Homo sapiens: one gene and its partners. The protein of the gene in region 3 interacts with the protein of the main gene of each other region in a pairwise test. Each region holds a gene or a part of one and is shown on either strand. Other genes may lie near its edges. The genes, in order: NUTF2, APBB2, PPP1R16A and TPP2.

What was found.
Region 1: the proteins of PPP1R16A (region 3) and NUTF2 interact in binary tests that used the Homo sapiens proteins (3 or more experiments, as listed by UniProt).
Region 2: the proteins of PPP1R16A (region 3) and APBB2 interact in binary tests that used the Homo sapiens proteins (3 or more experiments, as listed by UniProt).
Region 4: the proteins of PPP1R16A (region 3) and TPP2 interact in binary tests that used the Homo sapiens proteins (3 or more experiments, as listed by UniProt).

The regions. Positions count from the first base shown.
Region 1 is NC_000016.10:67,863,924-67,870,944, forward strand, and holds part of NUTF2 (nuclear transport factor 2), read left to right. Parts: intron 1-1,178; 5' UTR 1,179-1,207; coding exon 1,208-1,306; intron 1,307-4,416; coding exon 4,417-4,488; intron 4,489-4,577; coding exon 4,578-4,676; intron 4,677-6,876; coding exon 6,877-6,990; 3' UTR 6,991-7,021. UniProt on the Homo sapiens protein: Mediates the import of GDP-bound RAN from the cytoplasm into the nucleus which is essential for the function of RAN in cargo receptor-mediated nucleocytoplasmic transport.
Region 2 is NC_000004.12:41,211,536-41,219,549, forward strand, and holds the start of APBB2 (amyloid beta precursor protein binding family B member 2), read right to left. Parts: upstream 3,008-8,014; 5' UTR 2,870-3,007; intron 1-2,869. UniProt on the Homo sapiens protein: Plays a role in the maintenance of lens transparency, and may also play a role in muscle cell strength. Involved in hippocampal neurite branching and neuromuscular junction formation, as a result plays a role in spatial memory functioning.
Region 3 is NC_000008.11:144,494,962-144,501,982, reverse strand, and holds part of PPP1R16A (protein phosphatase 1 regulatory subunit 16A), read right to left. Parts: exon of another isoform or gene 5,523-7,021; 5' UTR 4,789-5,522; coding exon 4,530-4,788; intron 4,007-4,529; exon of another isoform or gene 3,988-4,006; coding exon of another isoform or gene 3,766-3,987; exon of another isoform or gene 3,214-3,765; coding exon 3,143-3,213; exon of another isoform or gene 3,068-3,142; coding exon 2,922-3,067; exon of another isoform or gene 2,461-2,921; intron 1,888-2,460; coding exon 1,784-1,887; intron 1,717-1,783; coding exon 1,592-1,716; intron 1,497-1,591; coding exon 1,371-1,496; intron 1,298-1,370; coding exon 1,222-1,297; intron 1,142-1,221; coding exon 1,012-1,141; intron 855-1,011; coding exon 689-854; intron 464-688; coding exon 80-463; 3' UTR 1-79. UniProt on the Homo sapiens protein: Inhibits protein phosphatase 1 activity toward phosphorylase, myosin light chain and myosin substrates.
Region 4 is NC_000013.11:102,634,983-102,642,003, reverse strand, and holds part of TPP2 (tripeptidyl-peptidase 2), read right to left. Parts: intron 6,418-7,021; coding exon 6,302-6,417; intron 5,781-6,301; coding exon 5,612-5,780; intron 4,923-5,611; coding exon 4,765-4,922; intron 3,766-4,764; coding exon 3,689-3,765; intron 1,735-3,688; coding exon 1,628-1,734; intron 1-1,627. UniProt on the Homo sapiens protein: Cytosolic tripeptidyl-peptidase that releases N-terminal tripeptides from polypeptides and is a component of the proteolytic cascade acting downstream of the 26S proteasome in the ubiquitin-proteasome pathway.

The DNA of each region.
Region 1 (7,021 bases), on a different chromosome or scaffold from region 3:
GAGGGGGCCTCCTCTCAGAGACCCGAGAGAGACAGCTCCTTAGGGTAAAAGCAATGCTGGGATGAGGGGATATGAAGGGATGACACGTTTCCCTTCACAGCCTCCATCCCCTCTTCCCACAACCCTCAGCTTTCCCTCTGATCCTTGAACTCATGTCCCCAGCTCTGAAGTGGGTAGGAGTCACTCCCATCAATGAAGAAATATCCTAGAAAGGGCCAGGTCAGGTAATCACCTGGCCTCGGGGAAGTAAACTGCCCCCATGAGACTAAGGGATCACTTGCTGTTTTTGGCAGAGGAGGGCCCTTGGCTGGGTACAGTGGCTCACGCCTGTAACCCCAGAACTTTGGGAGGCCAAGGCGGGTGGATCACTTGCAGTCTGGAGTTCGAGACCAGCCTGGCCAACATGGTGAAATCCCATTTCTACTAAAAATACAAATTAGCTGGGTGTGTTGGCAGGCGCCTGTAATCCCAGCTACTCTGGAGGCTGAGGCAAGAGAATCACTTGAGCCCAGGGAGCGGAGGTTGCAGTGAGCCAAGATCACGCCATTGCACTCCAGCCTGGGCAACAAGAGTGAAACTCTGTCTCAAAAAAAAAAAAAAAAAAAAAAAAGAAGAGGGGCCTTGAGAATCTCCCCACATCCTCACTGGGTCTTCCATCTGTCAGCGTAGCCCTGGGACAGTGTTGGGGGCCTGAGGGCTGTAGTACAAAATAGTACACACACACAGGTATCAGTTGTTCTTGGCTGTAAAGTGGGAAGAATAGCAATAACTCTGTCCTTGCAGGTTGTTGAGAGGATTACATGGAAAGATACTGGAGGAGTGCTTAACTCCTCCCATAAGGCCCCTCCCCTTACTGGGCTTTCAAGGGCCTGCTCTGACCTTTCTTTGTTGTAGATCTACCCTTAGCACCCCTCCTGTGTGCTCCACGACCCTATCATCTATGTGTCTCATCAACCAAGAACTCAAAGGAGAGGCTGGGTCTGATCTACCTCTGGGCTCCTAGCACTGGTCTGGCTTGGGAGGGGTCTCCTGCCAGTTCCCCAGGGCCTGTCCGTGTTCTCTGAGAGAACAGATCTCAGCAAAGGACTCCAGGAAGGCCAGTGAGGGGTGGGGGTCAGTGGCTGGTCACCTACTCTCATGGTACCAATGCTTCCCTCCTGGTCTCATTGGTCTTGCAGGTCTCCGTGAGGCCGGGTGACGCTCCAGAATGGGAGACAAGCCAATTTGGGAGCAGATTGGATCCAGCTTCATTCAACATTACTACCAGTTATTTGATAATGATAGAACCCAACTAGGCGCAATTTACGTAAGTTTCCAGCTCTAGGGCCAGAATGGACCCTAGGGGATCAATTTGGATGTTGGGCCAGTGTGTCCAGTTCACAAGTTCTGGCAGCCCTATCTGGACTGGCTACACCTCTGTATCTGAACTTTTGTCCACGGGACAGGGGTCTGACGCTTGGCCCAAGTAATTACCTGGTCTATACTTTTCCTTTTGTCAACTTCCACAAGAGTGAGAATCCTGCTGTTCTGGGCTTGCCATTCCATGTGGCCAGCATTTGTCATGGCACATGGTTTTGGATTGGGCAGCAACAGGCAGAGGTTAGGGCTCATGGTGCCCTCTGGAGGCAGCAGCCATGAGCATCCTCAGTGCAAAGCTGAGCTCTCTTGGAGGCCTGGGGTCCAGCTTCCTTTTGGATCCAAGGCTCCTGAATGCTCATGGAAAACAAATGAGGTTAGCCCAGGGAGGCTGATAGGTCATTTCACAAACCCTTCTATGCAGGCATTGCTGGCTGCTCTTTTTTTTTTTTTTTTTTGAGATGGAGTCTTGCTCTTTCGCCAGGCTGGAGTGCAATGGCTCGATCTCAGCTCACTGCAAGCTCCGCCTCCTGGGTTCAAGTGATTCTCCTGCCTCAGCCTCCCGAGTAGCTGGGATTACAGGCGCCTGCCCCCATGGCCAGTTAATTTTTTGTATTTTTAGTAGAGATGGGGTTTCACCATGTTGGCCAGGCTGGTCTCGAACTCCTGACCTCGTGATCCTCCCACCTTGGCCTTCCAACGTGCTGGGATTACAGGCGTGAGCCACTGCGCCCGGCATTTGCTGCTCTTTTAACGATGTTCATATACACCAAGAACTAATTGTACTTGACTCTGCCTGAGAGTCAGTCACAAAAATGTGATTGATCAGGCAGGTGAGCCCAGGATGGGGGTGTTAGGAGTAATCCAGGCACAGTCTCAGAGCCTGATTGGGCTGACTCTCCACAGTCTTCTGTGTCTGTCTCCAGAAAGTCAGTGTCCATTCAGAAATTTTGGAAAAAATAATGAAATTTTATTAGTGGAAGACCAATTCCAGCACAGATATTTGATTGTCATTATCATAGTAGAGTTTTTTTTTTTTTTTTTTGAGACAGAGTCTCACTCTGTCAACAAAGCTGGTGTGCAGTGGGGTGATCTCAGCTCACTGCAACTTCTGCCTCCTGGGTTCAAGCGATTCTTGTGCCTAGCCTCAGGAGTAGCTGAGGCTACAGGCATGCACCACCAAGCCTAATTTTTTTTTTTTCTTGAGATGCAGTCTCACTCTGTCGCCCAGGCTGGAGTGCAGTGGTGCAATCTTGGCTCACTGCAATGTCCATCTCCTGGGTTCAAGCTATTCTCCCATCTCAGCCTCCCAAGTATCTGGGACTACAGGCACGTGTTGCCATGCCCGGCTAATTTTTGTATTTTTTAGTAGAGATGGGATTTCACCATGTTGGCCAGGCTGTTCTTGAACTCCTGACCTCAGGTGATTTGCCTGCCTCAGCTTCCCAAAGTGCTGGGATTACAGGCATAAGCCACCGCGCCCGGCTACACCTAATTTTTGTATTTTTAGTGGAGGTGACATTTCACCATGTTGGCTAGGCTAGTCTCCAACTCCTGACCTCAGGTGATCTGCCTGCCTTGGCTTCCCAAAGTGCTGGGATTACAGGTGTGAGTTACCATGCCCAGCATAGAGTTTTTGAAACCTTGAAGTGATCTGACCTGAGATCCTGGCACTTGTGCCTCATTATCACTCTCCCTTTTTTTTTTTTTGAGATGGAGTCTCACTCTGTCACCTAGACTGGAGTGCATTCATGCGATTTTGGCTCACTGCATCCTCTGCCTCCCAGGTTCAAGCAATTCTCATGCCTCAGCCTCCCAAGTAGCTGGGGTTACAGGCACGCACCACCATGCCCAGCTAATTTTTGTATTTTTAGGAGAGACGGGGTTTCACCATGTTGGCCAGGCTGGTCTGGAACACCTGACTTCAAGTGATCTACCCACCTTGGCCTCCCAAAGTGCTGGGATTACAGGTGTGAGCCACTGCACCTGGCCTCATTATCTCTTAAAGCAGGCCTGAGCCAGAGAAGAGAGTTAGCAAGGTCCTAAAAGAACAATTTATATTTATTATTTCATAATACTCAGCACATTACCCCTTTGAAGGTTAGGAAACTAAGACTCAGAGAAATAACTTACTTAATGTCACAGCTAGTAAGCAGCAGAAGCCCTTTTGAGTTCTGCCCTTGAAGGCTGTGGAAGGGAAGATTTGAGGTGGAACTAAGCTAAGTGGGTTACATTTGAGATTTTGCTTCTTGGTGGTAGGGAGGGTCCCAGACTAGGCCTTGGAAGGCCCTGTCAGCCTCTATCTCTCCCTGACCCCATGGGTATCCAGAAGGCTAGCTAGAAAGTCCACAGTGGAACTTAGCCTCGGCCCTGGAGGGTGATGAATGTGGAATTTTTCCAAGTTATTTCTGATGACTTTTTTTTTGAGATGGAGTCTTGCTCTGTCACCCAGGCTGGAGTGCAGTGGTGCGATTTCGGCTCGCTACAAACCGCCGCCTCCTGGGTTCAAGCAATTCTCCTGCCTCAGCCTCCTAAGTAGCTGGGATTACAGGCGTGCGCCACCATGCCTGGATAATTTTTGCATTTTTAGTAGAGTTGGGGTTTCACCATGTTGGTCAGGCTGGTCTCGATGTCCTGACCTCGTGATCTTCCCGCCTTGGCTTCCCAAAGTTCTGGGATTACAGGCGTGAGCCACCGTGCCTGGCCACATTTCTGATGACCTTTTGGGACTGACACTGACTGACCACACAGCAGGATGGCTGAGCTCAGGCCAATATAGCCCTCCTGGGCCTATGCATATCAGAGACCATATGACTTCTTAAATACAAATGGGAAGTATATTTTATTAAATAGTCTTTCAAAGCCTGGGCCCAGGGTCAATGGGGTAGAAGATGTTGATAGTGTAATGTTTGGGGGCTATACTCAGTCTCCTTCTTTAGACAGGGAAACTGAAGTGTGGCCACACTTCTCCAAGCAAGGCCCTTTTCAGAGTCTTTCCAGGGCCTTAGAGATACTTGTACTCTGAGGCCCCAACCCTGGGGTTTCCTGTGCCTTTTTCAGATTGACGCGTCATGCCTTACGTGGGAAGGACAACAGTTCCAGGGGAAAGCTGCCATTGTGGAGAAGTTGTCTGTAAGTAGGGAAGAAAGCCAGGGTGCAGGTGGCTCCTTTCCCACCCCTTCTGGCCTTGGTTCTCCCACCTCCCACTCTCTCTCTTGTAGAGCCTTCCGTTCCAGAAAATTCAGCACAGCATCACCGCGCAGGACCATCAGCCCACTCCAGATAGCTGCATCATCAGCATGGTTGTGGGCCAGCTTAAGGTAATGGTACTGCCACAGTGGTAGGGAGGGGTGGGCAGGCAGAGGAGAGTCTTGTACCCCTGCTTTCCCTGTGGATGTGACCTGCTTATCTAGGGACACCCAGACAAAGTGACTGTCTAGAGCTGCGTAGTTCAGTATGCTAGCCATTAGCCACATGTAGGTGGCAATTTTTAAGTTATATTAATTAAGATTAAATAAAATGTACTTCTTCGGTTGTACTAGCCATATAGAACATTTTTGTGACTGTAGAAAGTCCTATTGGCAGACACTGGTCTAGAGCCTTTATCTGGAAAAGGGAGAAGTATAGGAGTAGGATGGGACTGGGGTGCCAAGCCACTAGGCTCCCACTCTGCCCTAAGGTCAAGGTGGACAGGCTAGCTGGGTGCGGAGAGGCAGTCCACTCCTGCAGCCCTTGCTACCACTCCTCAGGCTGGCTGCTGGCTCCTTGCCTGCTGAGCAAAGCAGATTCCTGGAACTCCTATTTCTTTTTTTTTTTTTTTTTGAGACGGAGTCTCACTCTTGTTGCTTAGGCTGGAATGCAGTGGCACAATCTCAGCTCACTACACTTCTGCCTTCCGAGTTCAAGCAATTCTCCAGCCTCAGCTTCCCAAGTAGCTGGGATTACAGCTGCCCGCCACCACACCCAGATAATTTTTTGTATTTTTAGTAGAGACAGGGTTTCACTATGTTGGCCAGGCTGGTCTTGAACTCCTGACCTCAGGTGATCCACCTGCCTCGGCCTCCCAAAGTGCTGGGATTATAGGCGTGAGCCACCTATTTCTCTTTGCATTTTCCTTCCTCCTTCTCAAGACCTATTATTCTCAGAGACTTCCTGTGGTCCCTCAGACCCCCCAAGAACTCTCCAAGGACCTGTTGTGCTTCAGCATATTAAAGTCAGATTCTGGGCTGGGCGCGGTGGCTCACGCCTGTAATCCCAGCACTTTGGGAGGCCGAGGCAGGCAGATTACCTGAGGTCAGGAGTTTGAGACCAGCCTGACCAACATGGAGAAACCCTGTCTCTACTAAAAATACAAAATTAGCCAGGCATGGTGGCACATGCCTGTAATCCCATCTACACGGGAGGCTGCGGCAGGAGAATCGCTTGAACCTGGGAGGCAGAGGTTGCGGTGAGCTGAGATTGCACCATTGCACTCTAGCCTGGGCAACAAGAGTGAAACTCTGTCTCTAAATAAATAAATAAAGCCAGATTCTGTTTACAAAAACACCCTTCTTCCCAAAAATAGCAGGACAAATTGGCTGCCCCTCGGCCTGGGCTTGTGTCTTACAATAACATGGTCACATGCTCTCTTTCTCTAGGCTAGCCGGGACAGGGCTTCCTGAGTCCAGAGTGGGTGTGTAGGTGGTCCTGTGGGCCTCTGCAGTGGACGCAGAGGCACCTGCTTTCTGGCCTGGACTTTCCTGTCAGTTTCTCCTGCCTGTTCAGGATGTCCTGCTCAGTGCCTGTGCCTGAAGAGGCACAGAATTCAGGAGGTCTCTGTAGGGAGCTCATTGTTCACTTTCTCAGGCAAAGGTAGTAAACACTGCTGCTTCCCACCGGCTTCAGGTTCTTCCTGGTGATTCTGTCCAATTTGGAGCTCCCAAACAACTGATTTGCCTCCTTGATGACGATAATTCCCAGAAAGCAGGTGATGTTAGAGACAGTGCTGGTTAGCTAGGCTCCTATTTCAACTAGGTCTCATCCTAGTTTTCTGCAGTTTGGCTGCAGGTTTCTTGCCCTTTTTTTTCATCTCAAATACTGTTTATTACATGACAGGAAACATCATTGGATAGTGAACCTATGTTTTCAAGATTGTTTGCAGTTTTTTTGATACTCTATAAGTTACTTGGTAAATACTATGGGATTCGTTTCAAAATTGTGATCACTTGTGTCTGGAGATATGTGCTTGGAGGCAGGTACATCCTCTGCTCTTTTGCTGTAGCTAAGGGTGAATTATTGTGCAGTTTAAGCACACATAGCACACATAGGCGTGGCTGATTGTTGGCCTACATGTGCCCAGGGCATTGTTTCATACATTACATCAATTCACATTCACAAGTACCCCTTGGCTACACTGGGATTTGAGTTCAGGACAGTAGGGCCTGATCCTAAAGTCAACATTTTTTTGCCCTCTTCTCCTACCACTGAATTCCCTTCCTGTTTCTTGATCCCCTTACTGAATCCTCTTTTCTCTCCTCATAGGCGGATGAAGACCCCATCATGGGGTTCCACCAGATGTTCCTATTAAAGAACATCAACGATGCTTGGGTTTGCACCAATGACATGTTCAGGCTCGCCCTGCACAACTTTGGCTGACCTCCTCTCAGCTAGGCACTCACGCTGTTTC
Region 2 (8,014 bases), on a different chromosome or scaffold from region 3:
GCAGTGGCGCGATCTTGGCTCACTGTAACCTCCACCTCCCAGGTTCAAGTGATTCTCCTGCCTCAGCTTTCCCAGTAGCTGGGATTACAGGCGGGAGCCACCACACCCGGCTAATTTTTGTATTTTTTTAGAGACGGGGGTTTTACCTCTTGGCCAGGCTGGTCTCAAACTCCTGACCTCAAGTGATCTGCCCGCCTCAGCTTCCCAAAGTGCTGTGATTATAGGTGTTAGCCACCGTACCCGGCCAGGTATTGTCTATTTTTAAAATGAAATTGAAAAAGGTACAGAGACACGACATACCATTTTTCTTATTTTTTCCTTCAACTTTTAAGTTCCAGGTACGTGTGCAGGATGTGCAGATTTGTTACACAGGTAAACATGTGCTATGGTGGTTTGATGCACAGATCAACCCATCACCTAGGTATTAAGCCCAGTATCTATTAGCTATTCTTCCTGATGCTCTCCCTTCCATTTTTCTTAAAAGATAAATTTAGATATCCAGTACTCAGGATAGTCCACACACATCATTATTCTAATATTATGACAAGGCTTTCAGTATTCATTCCTGTGGTAACAGAAAAATAAAAGAATTCAATGTTCATATGCTGTTTTTCTGGTGGCAGGAAAAGAAAACAGTCATCAAAAGGTTGAAACATGACAAAAAGTACCAGTTTAAAAATATTTTATGTTTGTACATGTGGATTCTTACAATATATGCAATAGTTTTTTCCCAAGTAATTTTGGAGTCAGTATTCACATTACTCCAGCTAAGTGTAAACACCAGTATTTTGCACTTTAGCTCATCAAGCTTTCTTTTTTTCAGAAACAGGATCTCACTCTGTTGCCCAGGCTGGAGTGCAGTGGCGTGATCATAGCTCACTACAGCCTCAAACTCCTAGGCTCAAGCAATCCTCCCACCTCACCATCCAGCTTTTCAATTACCACTTTATAAAAATTTCAGAAAGCCAGTTCACATTGGCTCCTTGAAGGTGAATTTATTCAGTTAAAAGTATCCATTAGAAGAGGGAATAAAAGCATAGGACCTAAAAACCTTCTGTGGAAAGGATCTCAACTTTAGAGTCGTCTCTCAAAGGCTCTCAGCAAATATCTAGAGACGTGGTTACATCCAGTTTACGAAGACTGTCGGTGACTTCGGGGTCATACAGTACATGGACAACGAAAGAACAGCAATTGAAATCTTGTACTTGTACCCCACCACCTTCCGCCCTATGATCAACCCACTGTACTCTACTGCCACCTGTGTTCTCTCGGCATTTCCCCAGCCTGGAGGTTTCCCCATTCTCGCCACAAATACCATCCTTCACGAACGATGCCATTTCTAGGATGTTGCAAGTTATGATAAACAACTGTTGAACAAATATTGCTTACAAGCTACAAGTTGAAAACGAGAAGGTTGCTACCTAAGTTCATGAAGAAATCCCCTTTCAAGGATTCCATCTGTTCCTAAAAGGCCAGCCACACAAATTCTAATACTCTGCATTATTATGGCCATTTGGGGACAAGATTTTAAATCTGAAACCATGACAAGAAAAAAAAAAAAAGCAAGATTTAAGAGAGTAAACTCCAGAAACAACAGATCAAACTGCCATTGTGTTTGTTTTTTTTAAATCAGTGAAATATTAAAACAAATGATAAACCCATGCCAACCTCACAAAGTTTCCTCATTCCTTGGAATTCAAACACCACCGATGGCATCATTTTATGATAATCCTTTGGGTATTTCACGTAAGTAATTAGACACAATGTAAAGCCAGTGACTGAGGGACTTAAACAAACTGTCCCCTCCGAGAGCCCAGTTGGAGCTTCCGACACTGACCTTATTCTCCTCTCAATTTTAACCCTCCTCAACCACTCAATCCATCCAAAAACGTCTGTGACAGTCGTGGCTCTAAAACCGCGCAGAACTTGACTACAGAACGGTCGGTGACAACTCCACATATGATTTATCCAAATTAATTTATTTTTTTGAATTCTAGTCCCATGCTCCCTCGGCTGTTTGCCCCGAACCCGTAGTCTACACCACTTCACCGACGTGAAGACCACCTTTCATTGTTTCTATGGGTCTCAGCATCCTTCCCTCCGTCCAGCTCTGTTCTCGCCGCACAAATGTCATTTCTAGCGTACCACCCTCCATTCCGCCCGGTGGGCAGCGCAGGGGCTTTCGGGTCCCAGTGGCCAGTTTCCTGGAGTCGGTCCCCTATGCACAGCCATTTTCTAGTTAAACGCTCTCTCTGCCACCGAGGGGGAAAAGGAACTTTTCCCCCCTTTCATGTCTCATGGGCTGGCCTCTGAACCCCTCGTGGAGAAGCCAACCCCGGCTCCAACTCCCCGGCAGGAGCGCGCTGCCGCCCAGGAGAGACAGCCGAGCGGCACAGCGGAGGCCGGTGCCAGGACAAGGGGGTGTGCGCTCTTCCCGCAGGCGCCCACCCTCACTTTTCCCCTCTGCAGTCCCCACCCGGGCGCACCGCCTCCAACCCGGTCTCCCCCGCCCCAGGCCCTGCCAAGCCGGGGCTGCTGAGGGAAAGAGGGCGCCGGGAAGCGGGAGGGATGGAAGTCAAGGAGAGTGAGCCCGCAGTCGCCGTGCCACTGGCCCTGCGGCGCGGGCGCAGGGCGCACGGGACTCCGCAGCAGGCGCCCCGCTGCAGATGCCGCGGCAGCTGCTGCAGGTGTGGCTGCGGCTGAGCGGGCAGCAGTGGCCGCGGAGCCCCGGGGCCGGGAGCAGAGGAGAAGCCGCCGGGGGAACCCGCAGCCGCTCGCCGCACGCTGCTGCCGCTACCCGGGTGTTTCCCCAGCACTCTCGTGCTGCCCCGGAATCCGGGGCAAAGGCAAGGAAGAAAGCTGGGCTCACCAGTGGTGCGCGCGGCGCTCGCCTCGGCTCCGGCGCCCAGCGGCTCTGCTCCAGTCTCGCCCTTCCCGGAGCGCCCAGATCAGATGCGGTTACAGCGCACTAGCTTCCTACTTGAGACCAGAACGGGCTCCGGCAACTGAGCATGCTCAGTGCCGTTCCGCGAGTCCCGCGCAGGGAGCGGCGCTGACGAGATTCCACTTCTCCAGGCTTTGGCAGCGGCTGCGCGAGGGAAGGCTGGAGGGACCCGGCGGGGAGGGGGCCGAATGGGAGAAAGGCGGGGCCGGGGGGTGGGGGCCGGGCAGAAGGAGGCGGGCCGCGCTCCCAGGGCGACCCCTGCAGGTGGAGGCGGCAGGGCCTGCGGGAGGCACCCTCCCCAATCGCCTGGGAACACGCAGGGAGGCAATGGGTCCCCCAGTAAGACCCAAAGGCAGGACGTGCAGTGCAGCCCGGGTATCCCCTCCGTGTGGCTGGTGTCTGTCTGCACCAAAAGGCAGTTGGGTTACCTTAGCCCTGGCTTTTCTCCCACACGCCAGCATTCCCTTGCAATAGGAAAATGTCCCCACAGGAGAGCTGCCCACACCCACCCAGGCTAACTGCAAGTTGTAGGCGACACCTTCTCCTTCCTTCTACCTCCTATCCCCACCCCCAGGCATATGCCGCACACACACTCTTCTTTGATCCGGAAATCACAAGATAATATCAGGGGAGAGATACAACTGCCGGAGAGGAAAAGGAGGTTTTCCTTTCCATTGCCAATAATATTATCTATAACTCTAATTGTAAGCGTGCAAACAAAGCCCTGATAAGAGTCGAGTCTCAGTAAACGGTAAACCGTGCTCTGCCCCAGACGCTGTGAATGACATCCCCAAAGTATCCTTAGGATTGCTCTTCACCAGGGCAGCGGTTGTCAAACTGGAGCCTGGATCAGAATCGCCTGGAGGGTTTGCTGAAGTACAAATCCCTGAGTCCCAATCTGTGTCTCTGAATGGGTAGATATGTGGTGGGGCCCAAGCATCTGTATATCTAACAAGTTCCCATGGGATGCTGATGCTGCTGGTGTGAGGACTATACACTTTAGAGAACCCTACCCATACACACACACACACACAGTCCTACCAAGGATCTCGAATTAAAAACTCACGTGATTCTTCCTATGAGGACTCTATGCAGTGGGGTGGGCATTACTTTATTCTTTCCTACATGAGTTTATTAAGGATCCACGAGGTCTTGTACTAGGCCTGAGGATAGTGGTGAATTTAAAAGCCCAGGCCCCTGCTTTCATGGAATTTATAGTCCGGCCGGGTGACAGACACCTATCAAATAATCACTCAAAACGGTTATTTCAAACAGGTAGAGTGCTGGGAGGGAAATGCACAAGGTGCGAATAGAGTGTATAGAGGGACCCTCATGCAGACTCAGTGAGGTTGTTACGAAGGGATGGGAGGGGGGCTGCCTTGTGGAAGGTGGTTTCTGACTTTTGCACTCCAATAACCTCTCCAATTAACAATTATCTCCCTCAGACCGAGCTGGAGGCCAGCAATCATGTCCCTCCTTCCTACAACATAAAAACAATACTGTCACAGAGAAATCCCTATAAATTCATGAAAAGTGTTTACTCTTGGGACTGAGTCTCTGCACCCCAAGATCCACCTAACACGTCCGTGGACCAAGGACAGTCGAGGGCCACAGTAGACCTCTTGGGGAAAATACAGGCTCTCTGAACTGGAGAGCCTGTGGTTCTTAGTCTGTGATCTTCAAGGCCAAAGAGGCAAGGAAACCAGCCCAAGACCACCATTCCCGTCAGGAGCGGAGATCGACCAGCCTCCAACCTTGCAGACGGGTCCTCTTTCCAAGGCACTCTATTCCCGGACCTCACAGCTCCCCTCAGATCCCCGGAACCCGGCCTGGCCACCCCGCTCTCTCTCGGGGGTCCGGGGTAGGTGAGCGGAGCCTGCCCCTCCCAGGTCGGTCTCTTCCCGACGGAGAGGAAAACCCGCGGTGGAGTCCGCGGCGGCGGGGGGGGGGGGGGGGGGGGGGGCGGGGCGGCGCGCGCAGGCGCAGAGGCCGCCAGGTTGGGCCGAGGAGGCGCCCTGCTCCACACCTGATGCAATCAGCCTTCCGGAAACGGGTCCCGCTGCCGCGCTCACCCAGGAAACACTTCCGCGCCCTCCTCTGGCCGCTGAGCTCCCGGGGACGGGTTCCCAAACTCCCCCGGCCCGACTTCGCCACGGGCGGTGTTCTGCGCCCCGTCGGGGATACGCCGGAGAAGTCGGGAAGTCACTGCCTGGGCACACAAAATCCCTGAAATGCCCTGACAGTGACGTCGAAACGGCCACCAAGCGTTGCGCAGCTGCAGGAGGAAATTCCCTTAATTATGAATTTACAGAGGGGACTGATCGGGGCCGGAGGGAAGGCTTTGACCCTTCCCTTGCTTCCTTCCTTCGTCCGCCTCCCAACACATTGTCTCTCTCACTGAAAGGAACGTTTAACAGCAGTTTTAAGGCAGTATGGAGAGGAATCTCCATGCCCTCTGTCTTGCTAAATATGTAACAGCACTTTAGCTTTGCTACATAAAGCTTTCCCACCGCGCGCTCATTTTATAAATACGTAATTGGTTTCTGCATACCTCATCATTTCAGTTTACAAAGAAAATCATTTCTCGTTTCACCACTTCATGCAATTTTTATATCTATTGTGAGTGGGTTTTTTTCTTCATGCTGACTCACCCATTAATTGTTTTCCAAGGAAATGAAATATCCAAGAATATTCCAAGAGCATGTTTTTTAAAGCATGGAAGTAAACGCTGTGAACAGTAGATAAAACTGACCTCTCTTAAGTCCCTTAAGGCCAAAGGTCCTCCTAGGGAGTTGGGGGAAGGAGGCAGATCCAAGGAATTTTATTTGGAAGGATACCTCAAGACCATTCTAGAATCAAATCAAGATCAACTCTTAGACTTTACAGATGACATTTACCTCTCTGTGGCCCAGAGAAATAAATGACTTCTTTATTTAGACAAACCAAAGGCAGAACTGGCACTTGAAGCCAGATTTCTCAAAATTCCAATCTAATGGGGAAAAAAAAATGTTTTTTGCACAAACACCGTAGGGAGTGCAATACTATATTACAATGCAGTTTTACAATCCAAAGATTACAAAATACAAAATAGGTGACAACAAAAGGGATCCTATTACTTGTTCCTGTGACGTCATTAGTCTTTAAATAGTCCATGATCAACAAATATCCAGCCACTTCTAAGTGGCATTGAATAGCCAGAGTCTAGGAATTAAATATTTCAATTAAACAGGTATGAGTCAGGTGCAGTGGCCCAAGCCTGTAGTACCAGCTACTGGGGAGGCTGAGGCAAGAGGGTACATGAGGCTGGACGTTCAAAGTTGCAGTAGGATCTTGCCTGTGAATAGCCACTGCACTCCAGCCTGAGCCACACAGCAAGACCTCATCTCAAAACAAAACAAAAAAAACAGTATAACTACAAAACATCAAGAAATCTTCTGTGCCAACATTAAGAACTTCTAGTATTATTATTTGATTGTGTGGTATATGTGCAACGGTTTGAGCTTAAACCAAGGGAATTTTAATGATCACAACAAAATATCACGGTCATGATTTTCTTCTGTAATGATTTTAAATACTTTAACAATTTAGTAATCAAAGTGAAATAAAAAACAACTCAAAACTCATGCCTGCAATAAGATAAAATCTAATTCTTCAAAACTCTGTCTACCTTCTTATCTTGAGGAATGAATTTCTTTTTGGAATGTTCTGACAGAGATCTGGAGGAACACCTTCTATTGAAGCAAAAATAGAGTTGAGTAAATGTCAAAATGCAGAGGTACAAAATACACACTGTCACACGGTACTAGTTTTAGAATAGCTAACTCTTACTGACTATTTAGCATGTGCCAGATACTGGCTAAGCATTTTCCATAGGTTATTTAACTCAATCCTCACAACTACCCTATAAATGAAGCACTATTATTATCCCTATTTTATGGATAGGGAAAGTGAGGCTTGCAAATGTGAAGCAGCTAACTCAAGGCACAAAATATTCATTGGCAGAACTGGGATTTGAACCCAGGCAGTTTTCCTGGAGCTTGAGCTCTTAAATAATACTATGTATGGAAAAATGTAAATACAGAGAAAATGACTATAATGATTCTCAGATAAGAAAGGAGAGGGAGTATTGTACTTACTCTCCTAAAGATAAAACATAGTAAAATAAGTTTGTAGTCCACACTAGGAAAAAACCTTTTGCTAGCTAATAAATTATGGTCCCCAAATATAGGACCAATATTACCCAGAGGTATGAGGCAGATGATCAAATATCGAGTGATTTTTCAGGGGTACCAGCAAGGCCTCTTCTCTGATGAACCCTCTACGCCTGACTGGTTTCTCTAGTCCTAAACCATCCAATATGGCAGTCACTAGCCACATATGCTTATTTAATCTGAAATCACTTAAAATCAGTTAGAATTAACTCTTCGGTTCCTCTTTCATACTAGCCACATTTCAAGTGCTCAGTAGCATATGGCCTAATGACTACTGTATTGGATAATGTAAGTAAAAAGCATTTGCATCACTGCAAAAAATTGTATTCAACAGTGCTGCTCTGGGCCTTAATGTCATTAGGGCAATCCTTTAATCTCTCTTCATACTGCACTATTCCTGGGAGGACCATGTTTCCATGGTCTACCTTCCCATTGAGCTTCAGTCCTATTTTTCCAAACTAAAATTATTATTAGAGTGTAGAAAGGTACAAAGAGGTACAAAGCATAAAGTCCCCTACTATCATGGAAAGAATAGGGGCACTGGAGTAAGACCTTATTTCACATTCCAGCTCTTAGTAGTTGTGTGACCTTGGGCAAGCTACTTTACCTCACTGAATCTCACTTTTCTTATCTGCAAAATGGGCATGTTAATTTTTTCATTATAGGTTTATTTAAGATTAAATAACATATGTAAAGCTTCTGGTAGGCCTCACATAGGATGATTTCCTTCCTTCCACTCCTATTTCAGTTAATGACATTCCCCAATTACTCAGGTTTCTAAACTAGAAATCTCAGTCATCTTCAATTCTTCCTTCCTCCTCAACCACCCGCATTAAATTAATCACCAAGCCCTTTTGCT
Region 3 (7,021 bases):
GCAGCACCAGGGCACGCACCGTGGGGAGGCAGCCTTGGGCTGTGCCCGCGACAGGGCCCCTGCATGCTGAGCAACAGCCTCACATGAGCAGGCAGCACGGCCTCCTCTCCACGGGAGCCTCCACCGCCGGGGCTGTGAGCTTGAGCAGGGGTGGGTCCCCGCCTGCCCTGAAGCCACAGTCAGGCTGGGGGGTCACCGTGTCACCAGGCAGGCCAGGCTCAGCTGTCTCAGGGCTCTCGGGCCCCTCAGGTGGGGGTCGCTGCAGCTTGGCAGCAGCTCGCTGGCGCTTCAGGTCAGCCAGGGTGTGGTGGGCCTTGTCGTGGACCAGGGTGTGGGGGGTGGTGCTGTCCAGGGGGCTCAGCTGGTAGGAGACACTCCGGTCTAGTCGCTTGGAGTATAGATGCCGCACTGGGGAGCCCCCTACTCGGCCATTGTGCGGCCTGACCACTTCGGGGTTGTCCTCCTGCGGGCAGTGAAGGTCCCAGAGCCATCAGGAGGCTCCTCCCCCCTCCCTGGCCTTGGGTTCAGGCTGTATGGTCATGAAGGGACAGACAGGAGAGATGGGGCAAAAGCTGGCCCCTGCAGGGCACCATTCCTGACACAGGCAGGAGGGGGTCCAAGCGGAGAGAGAACCAGGGCAGAGCCAGGCCCACCCCTGCGCTGGGCGGAGCAGGGACGGGGCGCTCACCTCCGGGGGCGGCGGCCTGAGCTCTGCGCCTGTCTGGCGGTCATCGTTGTCCTCGGGCGGCTCCGGGCTGGTGGGCGGCGGCTGTTGCCACACGATGGCCTCCTGGGCGTGCTGCTTGCGGTACAGGTCGGTGCGCTGGGTTAGGCTCACCCGCCTCACCACCTTCCTGGGGAGGAGAGAGGAGAGGGAGTGAGGGGAAGGGGAGTGCCCGGAGGACCCCGCCCACCCCCTCGGACTCTGCCCCCAGTTCGGCTGGCACTCCGCCCGGGGCTGACGTCCGCGGGGCCAAGCCCGGGGCGGGGCCTGCTGGGGGCGGCGCTCACCCGCGGCTGCCGGCGCTGGAGGTGCGGCGGCGCAGCAAGGAGCGCTGGCGGCTCTGGGCGCGCAGGAGGGCGTCGTGCTTGTGCTTCAGCTCCAGCAGCTTGGCCCGCACCTCCTCGTCCCCGCACACATCTGAGAAGTGGGCGCAGGCGTCAGGGGCGCCCTCCCCGCCTGTCCTCTCCCCCAGGTGGAGGTGGGCCCCGCAAGCTCACCAAGGGGCGTCTCGTCCATCAGGGACTTTGCGTTCAGGTCGGCCCCGTGCGCCACGAGCAGCTCCACCAGGGGCACCTGTGGACGGCAGGCCGGAGCTGCAGACTGCTGCGCTGGAAGCCCCCTCCCACCTGCTCCCGCCCGCACTCACCTGGCCCCAGTAGGCCGCGGCGTGCAGCGGCTCCCAGCCGTCTTGGTCCTTAGCGCTCAGGCTGGCTCGGTGTTCCAGCAGCAGGGCAGCCGCCTCGCTGAACCCGTTGGCGGCTGCGACGTGCAGCTGCAGGCAAGCGCCCGGCCTGAATTCGGCCCCATCCCCCACCTCCAAGTAGCGAGGCCCCCAGCCCCGTGTGCCCCTCACCCCCCAGCCCTCACCAGCGTGGCCCCGTGGTCCAGGGGGGCATGGAGGTCTGCCCCGGCCTGCAGCCGGCTCCGGATGTCGTCCAGCATGCGCAGTTCTGGCACGGCCCGGGCGGCCTCGATGCTGTCCTGGGTGATGCCTGCGAGGCGGCAGGCTCAGAGGGAGCGCGACCGGCAGCCCTCCCACAGCCGCACCGCCGCACCTACCACGGTCGGCCATGGCAGTCTCCAGGCAGTCCAGCGTCTGCTCATCATCACACAGGTCATAGGGCATGTTCCCGTCGGTGTTGACCGCCAGGAGATTGGCGCCACTGCAGGGAAGACGGACGGGGTGCTGGGCACAAGGCCCTTCCCCGCTTGCCAGGCTCCTCACTTGGAGAAGTCCCCGCCAGGGCCCCTCAGCCCAGGGCTGCCCCTCAGGAGGCACCCTGTCCACCTGCTGCTGGGAGAGGCAGCCTTGGGGCCCATCGGCTGTCCTAGATCCTGTCATTAAGCCAGACAGGCCTCCTGCAGTCTCTATCCATCCAGGGATCCAGGTTCCTGGCACCTCCAGGGGCAGCGGTGCCCCCATAAACATGCATTGGATGGGCCTGCCTGCTGGGGAGCAGGGAGCACAGGGTGGCGGGGGTGCAGGACCAGGCAGCCACGCTGAGGGGCTGCTGAGCTGTGGGGAGCATGGCCCCAGGGAAGAAGGGCGGTGAAGGGGAGCCCAGAACACAGAAGGGGGTGTCTGTGTGCAGTGGAGGAGCAGGCCTACCTGTGGACACCCCACATCCCCGCCTGCCCCGCAGCGCCTGTGTGTGACGCGACCGCCATGCACACCCCACCCGGCCTCACAGGGGCACTCGAGAATGACCGCAGCCCTGACCTCTCTCCCACTACAGATGCCTGGAGCAAAGGGGAAGGGAGGAGGCTCATGGACCCTCCCTGCTCAGAGTTCCCCCCGCTCTACGTCCCTCTGTGTTAAAGGTAAAGGCCCTACCTGTGCTCAGGTACCCTCTCCTCCCAAGCCACCTGGCCTCCTCACTCTGCTTCCCTCCTTAGCAGTTCTGCCCTCCTCACTGACCAAGACATTTCTCTGTGCACACTCTGGGGGGGGGCCCGAGGCCTGCCCTCTCGGCAGGAGGACGAATGCTGGGGAGGCAGGGACCGCGCTGCCCTGGGCACATGCCCATTCCCCTGGAGCCCCAGGCCCTGCTCTCCATGCCAGGACACAGGCAGGGTCAGCAAAGGTGAAGGCGGGAACACAGGAGGCCGAGAGCCACAGATACTGCCCAAGAGGAGCCTCCTGAGCGGCCATCTGAGAGGAAGCCTCTCCCTGCCAAGGACGCCCAACAGGCCCTACCTGGCGATGAGCAGCTCCACCAGGTGCAGGTGGCCGCAGGTGGCCGCAGCATGCAGAGGCGTCCAGCACTCACTGTCACAGGCATTGATGTTGGCCCCAGCCTCCAGGAGCTGCTGCACCATCTCTCGGAAATCATCAATGCAGCACTGCAAACCGTGCCACGTGAGCGACCAGAGCACGGGGGCCAGCCCCCACCCTGCCCACACCCAGTGCAGGCTGACCTGGTGCAGGGCCGTCAGGCCGTCCTCGTTGGCCAAGTCAGGGCTGACCCCACTCCCAAGGAACTGGCGGACTGCAAAAAGGTGGCGAGGTGAGGACAGGGTCCTGCCCCTGGTCAGGTCCTGTCAACTGTGCTTCGGCCCAGGACCCAGGGAAGGACAAGGAAGACAGTGGTGCCGATGGCAGGAGGCACACCAGAGCCCAGGGGTGGGGGCAGAAGCACCAGGCATCTGTCTGGCCCAGGCCGGTCACACTCCCAGAAGCCCTCTGCCTCCACCCACCTGCAGGCCCTTCATGGTGGTGCTCCAGCCCTCCGACCCCCAGAACAGGCCGTGCTCCTGTGTGAGAGCAGCACTCCAACAATCCCACACCTCCCTCCAGCCCAGGAAGAGCTCCCTGCCTGGAGGCTACCACAGCTCCTTCGGCTCTTCCCTGACAACCTGCCAGCCCTGTGTTCATGAGCTCTCCTGGGTCCTCTGGGACCTGACCTGAGGCTCCCCACCACCAGAGCACATCCCTGCTCTCACTCCCCTCCCCATCAAAGATCCCAACTCGGGCCCAGCTCTCGCCCAGGTCACCAGGGTTCTCCCTGACGGTGCCTGGGGTGCAGCAGGAGGGCTCCCACCTTCCCACAGCTCCCTGTGGACCATGGCACCCTCCGCCTCTTCCCTCTGCCTCCAGGCCTCCCGGGAGGGCTCCTGTCCACATGGAAAGATGCAGGCCAGACACTGCCGGCTCCTCTTTACTCTCTGCTCCGGAGGGAGGCAGGAAGGAGTCTCAAGGGCCACCACAGTGCCTCTTCCCCCAAGACTCCAGAGCACCAGAAGTGGAACCCACACAGCTGGGGCTGCAAGCGTGGGGCACAGGTGAGGAGAAGAGAGTCACAAGCAGAGCCTAGGGCAGGCACTGAGAGGGGGCCACCTGCATAGCTCTGTGCCTGCCCAGGGCCTGGCTCTCTCACCCACAGAGGTGGCTGGTCCCACCCTATTTCACGGAGGTGGAGACCAGGGCTCTCCTGAGCAGCCTAACAAGAAGCAGCAATGACTACCGGCCACCCCTGCTCCCGTGGGGCCCCGCACTAGGTTTTTCTGCAGGCTCCTGGGGGTCCACTCATGGCCTCAGCTCACCTCACAGCAGGAGCCCTCTGCATGCAGCCCCCGCCTGAAGGACGGCTGTCCCGCACAGGCTCACCTCAGGGCTGCCCACTGCTTGGGGCTTGCCTGATGGGGGCACCCTGGGCCACCCAGCCTGAAGAGACCAGGCAAGATCTGGGGGCTGGAGCCCAGGAGCTGTGGACAGGCCCAGCCCCCAGCCTTGGCATGAGACGGCACCCAGGTAGCAGGGAGTGGGCCGTCTGCTGGGAGCTGCTCTGGGCTCAGCCACACTCACCTTCTTCCAGGTCATTTCGGGCAGCGGCCTCCAGAAGGACAACACTGGGAGGGAAGAGGACCTGCTTCAGGAGCCCTTGGCTGGCTGCCTCCTTCCGGGGACGCTCCCCAGGACCCTTCTTGCCCTGGGCCTCCTTCTCAGCCTGGGCCCACATCTTCACCTGCTGGGCGCGCCGCTTCTGGGCATGCTTCAGCCGCTCCTGTGTGCTCATCCTGCCCACCATGGGCATCTCTGCCAGCAGCTCCAGGTGCTCGGCCATGGCGGCGGCTGCTTGCCCACAGGGCTGCTCGGGGCACCAGAGTGGGGAGCTTGGGGGCCAGGCTGGGCCTGAGGGGTGGGGCAGCTAGCTGGACTGGCACCCTCGGGGGCATCCCCTTCCCAGAGCTTCGTGCCCTTGGCTGGGTCAGGAGGCCCCACACAATAACCAGGCCCAGGCAGCCCTGGGGGGCATGGGCCGGGGCAGGGAGGGCAGTGTGGGAGGGCACCCCAAACCTGCTCCCCAGGCCAGCCTCTAGCTGTCGACAAGCAGCGCCTCGCCTCCCTCTCGGGGTCAGGGTGCACAACCTATGGGAGGCAGCCCCGAGACCTGGCCGGCCTCAGTGCAGGGTCTGAAACTAATTACCCAGATAACAAGGTTCCAGCTTCCGGGCACCCTGCTGAGGGGGAAGGGAGGGCAGGGCCAACCAGCAGTGAGAGCCCCTGTGAGCCCCTGAGAGTCCTCTTTTCACCTTCTAGGCTCAGGAGCCTGGGTGGGGCCTGGGAGCAGCCATGACCCAGCCCCCAACCCCTCCCAGCTGTGTGCCGAGGTCAGTGCATCAGTACTAACGAGGAGGTGCAGCCGCTGAGGCTGGGGGAGGGCAGGTAGTCAGAGTCCTGGAGTCCTGGCCCCAGGGCCCAGGGGTGAGGCTCTCTAGGCAGCCAGGGCACCAAGGGCACAGGCGGGCCGGCCGCAGTGTCTTCAGGAGCACCTCCTCTTCCAGCAGCTGCTCACACCTGAGAAGTGGGGAACAAGGAAGCATATCAAGGCCGGCTTGAGGCAGGGTGGCCCGGGGGAGCCCCTGCCCTGGGCCTCAGGTGAGACCAGGCTTCCAGCTGTCTCAGGTCCTGCCCTGTGTGAGGCCCACCCTTTGTCCACAGAGAGCACTGCAGGTCAACAGTCCTGGGGGTACGGGGAGCTACTCTGCCCCCATTCTGCCCCAGGTTCAGAGAGGGGCGGGGGAAAGGCATGTCAGGCTCCTCCCACCCACCCTTTCCAGAAAGGGCCGCCCACCCCAGCGAGGCGTTCCCTGCTAGGCTGCTCCTCCAGGGCCAGGCGCTGCCCTAAGGCTGGGCAGGGTGAGGTCTCGTGGAACAGCCTTGAGGGCTTTGCAGGCTACTGCCTTCCAAGGGCAGGCCCCGCCTCCTGGGCCTCCACCTCTCCTGCCTTCCAAGGGTAGGCCCCGCCTCCTCCTGTCCTGACTGATACCCCAGCCTCTCACTGCCCAGTCTCTAGACCTCTTCCTTGATGGGCTCCCACAATGCCTCTGCCATCCTAGGCTGCAATAAAAGCCCCCACCTGGTGCCTGGCTTGAGGCCTATGGGGACAGACAGGCAGGCAGACAGCTTCGGCTGGGGCACAACCCTGCCTATGTACCTGCTATGGCCCTAGTCCTGCCCGACACACTAAGTGTGGTTGCTGGGCTGGCCACAGGCCTCACCTCAGAAGGCACTCTGTGCTTGGCCAGGCGCGGTGGCTCAGGCCTGTAATCCCAGCACTTTGGGAGGCCAAGGCGGGTGGATCACGAGGTCAGGAGATCGAGACCATCCTAGCTAACAGGGTGAAACCCCATCTCTGCTAAAAATACAAAAAAAATAGCTGGGCGTGGTGGCACGTGCCTGTAGTCCCAGCTACTCGGGAGGCTGAGGCAGGAGAATGGCGTGAACCAGGGAGGCAGAGCTTGCAATGAGCCAAGATCACGCCACTGCACTCCAGCCTGGGTGACAGAGCGAGACTCCGAGAAAGAAAGAAAGGAAGAAAGAAAAGAAAGAAGGCACTCCGTGCTCTGCAGAAGATGCCTGCCAGGAGTCCTATTCTCCACCCAGCCAGGCCTCATGGCCATCTACACACTGACCCAACTCTTCACTGCTGGACTTCTACCCAGGTGTTTCATAGAATGCCCCCTTCTTTCAGAAAGGGAACTGTCCTGGGCCAGGTCAAATTAAGCCAGTCAGGTCCTTCCTGCTCAGGGGCCCCCAATTTATCTGGGAGCCCCACTTTACAGGTTCAGCCTACTCTAGACATAGTCCCCCCCTGTAGGCCTAGCCTCAGAGGCTTCCTGAGGACACGGCCAATAAGGCCAGTGGCCCTGACCTGGCTTTCTGCCTGCCAAGTAAAGAGCTTTTCCAGGCAGTAACTCTCCCTCCGAGCAGCCTGCTCCTAAGCCTGGCCAGCTCTGTAGACCGCAGAGGCCAGGGCAAGCACACACTGGCCAGACACCCTGCCCAGGCTCCCA
Region 4 (7,021 bases), on a different chromosome or scaffold from region 3:
CTACTCTGTGCTGCCTCCCTCTAATCCAGTTCTCTTAACTGCAATATCTTGGACTAGATGCTCTCAAGGCCTCTGGAAGCAGGGTCCTTGTCTAAGTAGCTCACCACCTTAGCCCACTGAAAAGGGCCTGGCACAGATGGTACAGAAAAATATGCTTAATGAATGAGTGTAGTACAACCCGATTATCCTCAGAAGCCTCTCACTGCTGCAATAGCTCCATTATAAACCAGTGTGCAAATTAACAGGCTATATTGGGTGCTGTTCAATTCACTGCTTTAGCTCTCAGCTTTTGCTATTATTTTGCCTTTACCTAATTACAAAAAACAAGAAAAGTCTGGTATTTCCTGTGATACCAGGTGACAAACAGATGGACAGCATACAGATAGATGACCAGAAAATGGTATGGGGAACCAAATACAACCAGTTATTCCCAAACCAAGTCATACATGTGTGATTTCAATATTTCATTTTCAATAAAGTCTCAGATGTAAATATATCTGTACTTTCATACAAGTACAAAAAACACACTCCTAAGTAAAATACAAGCCATTTTTACTAATGACACCTATCTACCTTATAGGGTTCTGACGGGACTAGACAAGATAATCTCTGTAAAGTGCTTAGCAGAGGGGCCAAATCCAAGAAGTATCAACAATGCTGGCTACTAATTTAAATTGGGTGACACTTTCTTGACTGCCCGTATTTGCTTCCTTCTATCAATGGGAGTGAGCTCTGACAACTGACATACCCTTCTATACTGACTGCTAAATTGTAAATTTAGGACACACAACTTGTGAAGGAAAATATGGTACACCCACAGCTCTTGTAAAAAAGAATGACATGAGCACTCTCACAGGACTATAACATGTTAATTCAAGAGCTTTGTGTTAGGCAATCATTTACTCTCAAAATTTCAGAGACACTGAAGTGAAAATCTTCTATAAACAGAGCTTCAAAGATTAAAGCTCTATTTCTAAAATTCTGAGAGTTTAACAGTTTGAGGTTTAAGCAACAGCTGCATTGTTTAAACTGATTTGTAGTATTTTAAAAATTAGGCCGGGCACAGTTGCTCATGCCTGTAATCCCAGCACTTTGGGAGGACGAGGCGAGTGTATCACGAGGTCAAGAGATCGAGACCATCCTAGCCAACATGGTGAAACCTCGTGTCTACTAAAAATACAAAAAATAGCCTGGCGTGGTAGCACACGCCTGCTAGTCCAAGCTACTCGGGAGGCTGAGGAAGGAGAATCGTTTGAACTGGGGAGGTGGAGGTTGCAGTGAGCCGAGATCATGCCACTGCACTCCAGCCTGGCGACAGAGTGAGACTCTGTCTCAAAAAAAAAAAAAAAAAAAAAAAAAAAATTATTACCAGGTAAGGCATTATTCTAAACTAAGCTCAAACCTTAAATATTAAAAACATCTTAAGATGGCTTAATTTCCTGTATGGGCCAATGCAAAATTGTACTAGATCTTAAAAACGTTTTGAACTTTACAGAAAGTCTAAGGTACCCAAATACATATATTAGTACCAGGGAAATACATGCTACAGATAAACGAACCTCATACAGCTATAGTCATTAGAACGTAAACAGAGATAAGCGGTCACACAGATTTTAATTTTACCTACCAGCCCATGTTGCACCCTCAGGAACCTCAATAAAATGCCTTCGAATTTGACCAGGTTTAAAGTGTACATCTGTAAAGGCTAGATCATAATGTGATGATTCATTTACTCTGAAAATTAATAAAAGTAATTAAATGTATATATTTATTATAAGACCACAGATACTCTAGATTTCATTGGATAAACGCAAAATAACAATTCATTGGAAATAAACACAGGGACTTAGAAGCTGGTTACAAAACAGTAGGTACGATATTGTTCAATTTTTGCAGTAGGTTAGCAGAGATAACCTCTGAATAGCAGAGTATAGATGATTCTACTTTTTGCCTATTTTATGATTTGTAAGATACATTCACACACACTATTAAAAAAGCATTCTCTTTTTTGTTAAAGGCATTCTACAACATTCACAGAATTTTCCAATTACCAGATTCCAAACTACAGTGAGTCCTAGATATTAAAATCAATGATAAAGTTTTATGTCACTGGTATTATAGCTATGAGACTTGTGTTAAATTAAGCTCCTCCTGTAGCTTCAAAACACTCCCATGATGTAAAACAGTAAAGAAAGGCAAACTACTTTCAAAGCACTTTTGTAAGAAATCAATGAAATAAAGTTCAAATGCATAACTACCCACCACGGAAACAAATTTTATGCTAGAGACAAATTCTTGTCAGTAGGACAAACGGTTAAATGAGTGCCTACTACATGAGGCCCTGTTATTAGGAGCTAGAAACGTAACAAAGAAGAAAATATGATTCTTTAACCTAGACAATCTAGCATGGAGAGAATCATCATCAGAGACATTTAACATAAGATGCTCCAGATAGACAAGAAGAGTTACGGAGCCTGGGAAGCTTCCTGAAGGAGATGGCGTGGCAGCTGACTCCTGAAGGTCTTACACATTACCTGGTCTAAATTACTACTGGACTTCGAGGGAATATACGGCTGAGAATTTAACTGTTGCACAATTTTTCCACATGTATACCACTTTTTAAATTTATTCTCCTCAATTTCATCCTGTGTTTCTCATGGGCTGAGATCTATTGCATACTTAATATTTACCAGAGTAACAGAACTGTTAGTTTAGAATTTCCACTTGGTTTCCAGTACTCTCACAATCCCAATCTCACCTTCATCCACTAGATAATTTATTTTATACATCCTGTATAACAGTAGTCTCTGTGCCTTCGGTGGGCTCACAGTGAAAGAGTGTAAGTTAAATAAAAAATTACAATATATTGGCTAAAGTCTGTCCAGGGGCACGTAAAATGTGCCACGAAGCAGAAAGAAGGGACTCCCTTCACCCAGGGATGACCAGGAATGCACCTGGTCATTAACTGAAGAGACAGGAAATTGAAACCAAGTTATCAGCTGTGCACATGCACAAATCCTGAGAATCCTCAAGTGCCAAAATCAGTGAGTTGGCCAAAATGTGTAATTTGGTGTACGGAATGACAGGAAACACTGGCTAGGGCTATAATTGTGAGGGAGCATTGTTTGCTATTTTAAGGAGCTTGAACTTGACCTTTGGAGGTGCCACTGATATACTTTAAGCAGGAAGTAATATAATCTGCTGATTTTTCCTTGGTTCCAGAGGAATAAGATGGGAAGTTAAGAGTTTCTTAACTTCTGCTTCTACAGTAGATAACTAGAAAAGTGGAAGCATTAAGAGAAGAGAGTAAATCCCAAAAACGACAGAGACAAAAAGGGCAGGAATGGAGGGGAGTGAAGTAATATTGTCAAATACTACAGTGGGATCGGGTCAGACGAAGCCTGAGTTATCCTCTGAACTGGGCAATGCAGAGCTCAGAGTGACTGTGGTGGAAATAGTTTTGATGCAGAGGTAGGGCAGATGCCAGGTGCCATCAGTTACTCTCAGAGCACACAAGAGTCAGTATGGCTGACTACATGACACCTAAAAATGCTAGCTGGGAGCAGAACTAAGACAAAATCCCCATTACCTGGTTCTGTATTAGTGATCATTAAAAGTCCACAAGACTCCATGAATAGTCATTAAAATCTTAGATGTACCAGTAAGCTGTGAGTAACCTGTTACTTACTTTGCTGCTATAACTGCAGTGATCGGAACTCTGAAGAGCGGACCTGCGTTAGGGGATGCTATATCATAGCCACATACCTTGAAAAAAGAATCGGTAAGTGTCAATATCCATAAACAAATGTTTAAAAGAGCGGGGGAAGGTCTAAACTACTGACAGAATAAATCAATCTACTTTTAATCAAGGTCTTAACCAGAGGTTGACACCAATTTCCTGACACTAGGTCACATAATTAATAGCAAACAGCCCAAACAAATGTATAGCAACATTTGACCAGTTGAAATGGGAAAATGAGACGTCAGGTACAAAATAAGTGCATTTTAATTACTCCCAACTGAAAAATTAGCTCAAACTAGTACTACAGACAACTTTAGATGTGGAGATACTGTTGTGATACTATTCTATGCCTGGTTTACAACTATTTGTTTAACAGATGCTTTCTTCATCTGAGTACTAAAAGGTATAACTGGCTGGGTGTGGTGGTTCACACCTGTAATCCCAAAGCCCTGGGAGGCCAAGGCAGGAGGATCACTTGAGGCCAAGAGTTCAAGACAAGACTGGGCAACATAGAGAGATCCTGTCTCTACAAAAATAAAAAAATTTAGCCAGGCTTGGTGGTGCACGCCACTAGTCCTAGCTACTCAGGAGGCTAAGGTGTGAATATCACTTGAGCCCAAGAGTTCAAGGCTGCAGCGAACCACGATCACACCACTGTACTCCAGCCTGGGCAACAGAGCAAGACTCTGTCTCTTAAAACAACAACAACAACAACAACAAGCAACTGCAGCTTTGTTTAGCTGACAAAAGAAAACACCAGTTAGAGGGAGATCTAATTGAAAGGTTCTGCTGTACCTCTTCTTTCCTTTTACTTATTCATACAAGGACAAAATATGATTCTTTAGAAACTCACTGCTTAAATGAATATAGACACACCAGAAGAACTGAATAACCTGGCAGATGGATAGGTCTAGTTATTTCTTAGCAAGAAAGCAATATATTGCAAATATACTTTGGATTTTTTTTTAACCTTTTAAACATTTTAAAGAGTGAAGAAAGTAAAAATGAAGATACATCAATACCTCTGTATAATGCAATCCTTCTCTTAAGCCCCTGGGATCCACACGTATGTTTATGTGTCTACATTGATTCATGAGTTCCAAATGGCTGGGACACTGAACCCAAGATGAATTTGAAGTCAGAGCTAAATGAAGCTGAAGGGATATTTTTTCAGAGTTTTCTGGCACGAAAAAGACCAAAAATTAAAGATGAGTATTTTTTTCCTTTTTTCCATTTAAAAATGTTACATCTTTCCAAAAAAATTTAGCGACTTGGTTTGGTTGGCTGTAAAATGCATCCAAAACACAGCTTAAATAAAACAGTCAAATAATCTTCCTTACAATTTAGATTACTCATGATTCATTTATACTTTCACCAAGCACTGGTATGACCTTAAAATAAAGAGTTTAAGTGAATGTTTTCATTACTGCACACAGGTCATAGTATTCAACTGAAATGAAGACAGCCAGATAATAGCGATGATTATTTTTGTTCACACCTAATCGAGCTGCAGTTCTCCTAGACTGCTTCTACTTTTCATTCTTCAACAGAAAGCTCTGTCTTATACCTAAGTAGGTAAAGTGGAAAAGAAATTTGATATTTTATTATCCACAATTTAATAAAGCTGTGGGTCACTGAGGCTCATTCTACTGTTTTCCCTGGTAGTTTAAGATGCTAACTAAATTGCCATTGTACAAGGACCCCAAATTGCTCTAATATTTTCTCTTATGACTAAGATTTAAAATAATCATACTGTCAATTCATGTATTCTCTTCACAACACTGGCCCAAACAGCAATTCTTTATTATGATACCACTCATTCAAACAGCAAATGTGAATACGTCAGCTTACTGCCAGCCTATTACTGACCTGTGTTCTCCGGAAATACAGGTTCAATGCCAACGCCATGATCTGAAGGTGCAGCCACCTGAACAGGATCTCGGAGGTAGATGCCACGGTTATTTCCAACAGTAACAGTAAAACCTAATTTATTAGCAAATGATGTATTCTGAACGAGGTAGTCATAGGCTTTATCAACCTAGTGAAAATAATATACATGGTAAGATATAAATGGTTGGGTCAAAAAATATTTTGTTGCAAATTACCAATCAATTTGATTTCAGTTGTAAAACAAAAAGTTAGTGTCTATATTCACCTCTCAAAACTACCTAGTACCCCAACTAAGAGGACAATTCTACATTTTTAGAAACAACACCAGTCACATCTTCCACTCCACTCTATTCACACTGTTATTCTCAAGTGACCAAATTTAGGAACTAATCCCTATGCCGTTATGATTGGCCAGTTTTTGACCTCGATTTCTTTGAATTTCTAACCTCTACATGGCCTCCATCTATTACATTTCTTGATCTTAGTGCAACAGATTTGTCTTAACTACAAAATTTGTTTGTGTATCCTTTTTGCTTGTAGTTCTATGGCCATATAATCCATAATTCAGATATACTGAATCACTGTTATAAAACAAAATATTACCCAATAATATCTAAGATATTATCTCAATGATGCTTTACAACCCATTTTTCATATAGGCAACAATACCTGAATAATACCATGTCCTTGAGCAAATACTTCTATATTGTCAGCCTTCACTGCAGTGTTTTCTAGAGCTCTTCTGACTGAATGAACTGTGTAGTCAATGTTATTAGCTTTCAGACCTAAAATTAAGAAACAAAAACAAGTAGTGTAGCACTCACTATCTGAAACCTTAGCCGCCCACCAGTATGATCGATCACCTGTAGACCCTCTGGTGTTAATGTCTTGTGTTCTAACACTCATTTTAAAATCTTTTTTGAAGACCTGAACTAAACAGTCTGACTCAAACTGCTTGCATTACATGAAGGCTTCATTCCACAAAAATCACTGTGTTCTCATTATGTGGTGGGCAGAGAGACTGGTGTGGGCTTTGTGGCGTAATATAAACGTACAAAGCAGATATCTAAAAGCATGTGAATGACATTTTCTTTCAAACACTGCTGGGTTAAACAAGATGGCTGTTGGCTGTGGTGTTCAACCCAACTGTATGTTATAAACCCCAGGGGAACTCAAGCAAAAAAGATGCTGAGGTCTCATGACAGACCAATTAAATCAGAATCTCTGAGGACTGTCCCAGAGATTGTTATTTATTAAACAACTCTCAGATGATTCTAGGGTACAGCCAGGTTGGGAATTACTGTTTTATGGGAAGAATATGGAGGCCACCAATTCATAAGATGAGTGCTGTATCATTCTTGTCCTCTCCAGAGCTCATTAAACACATAA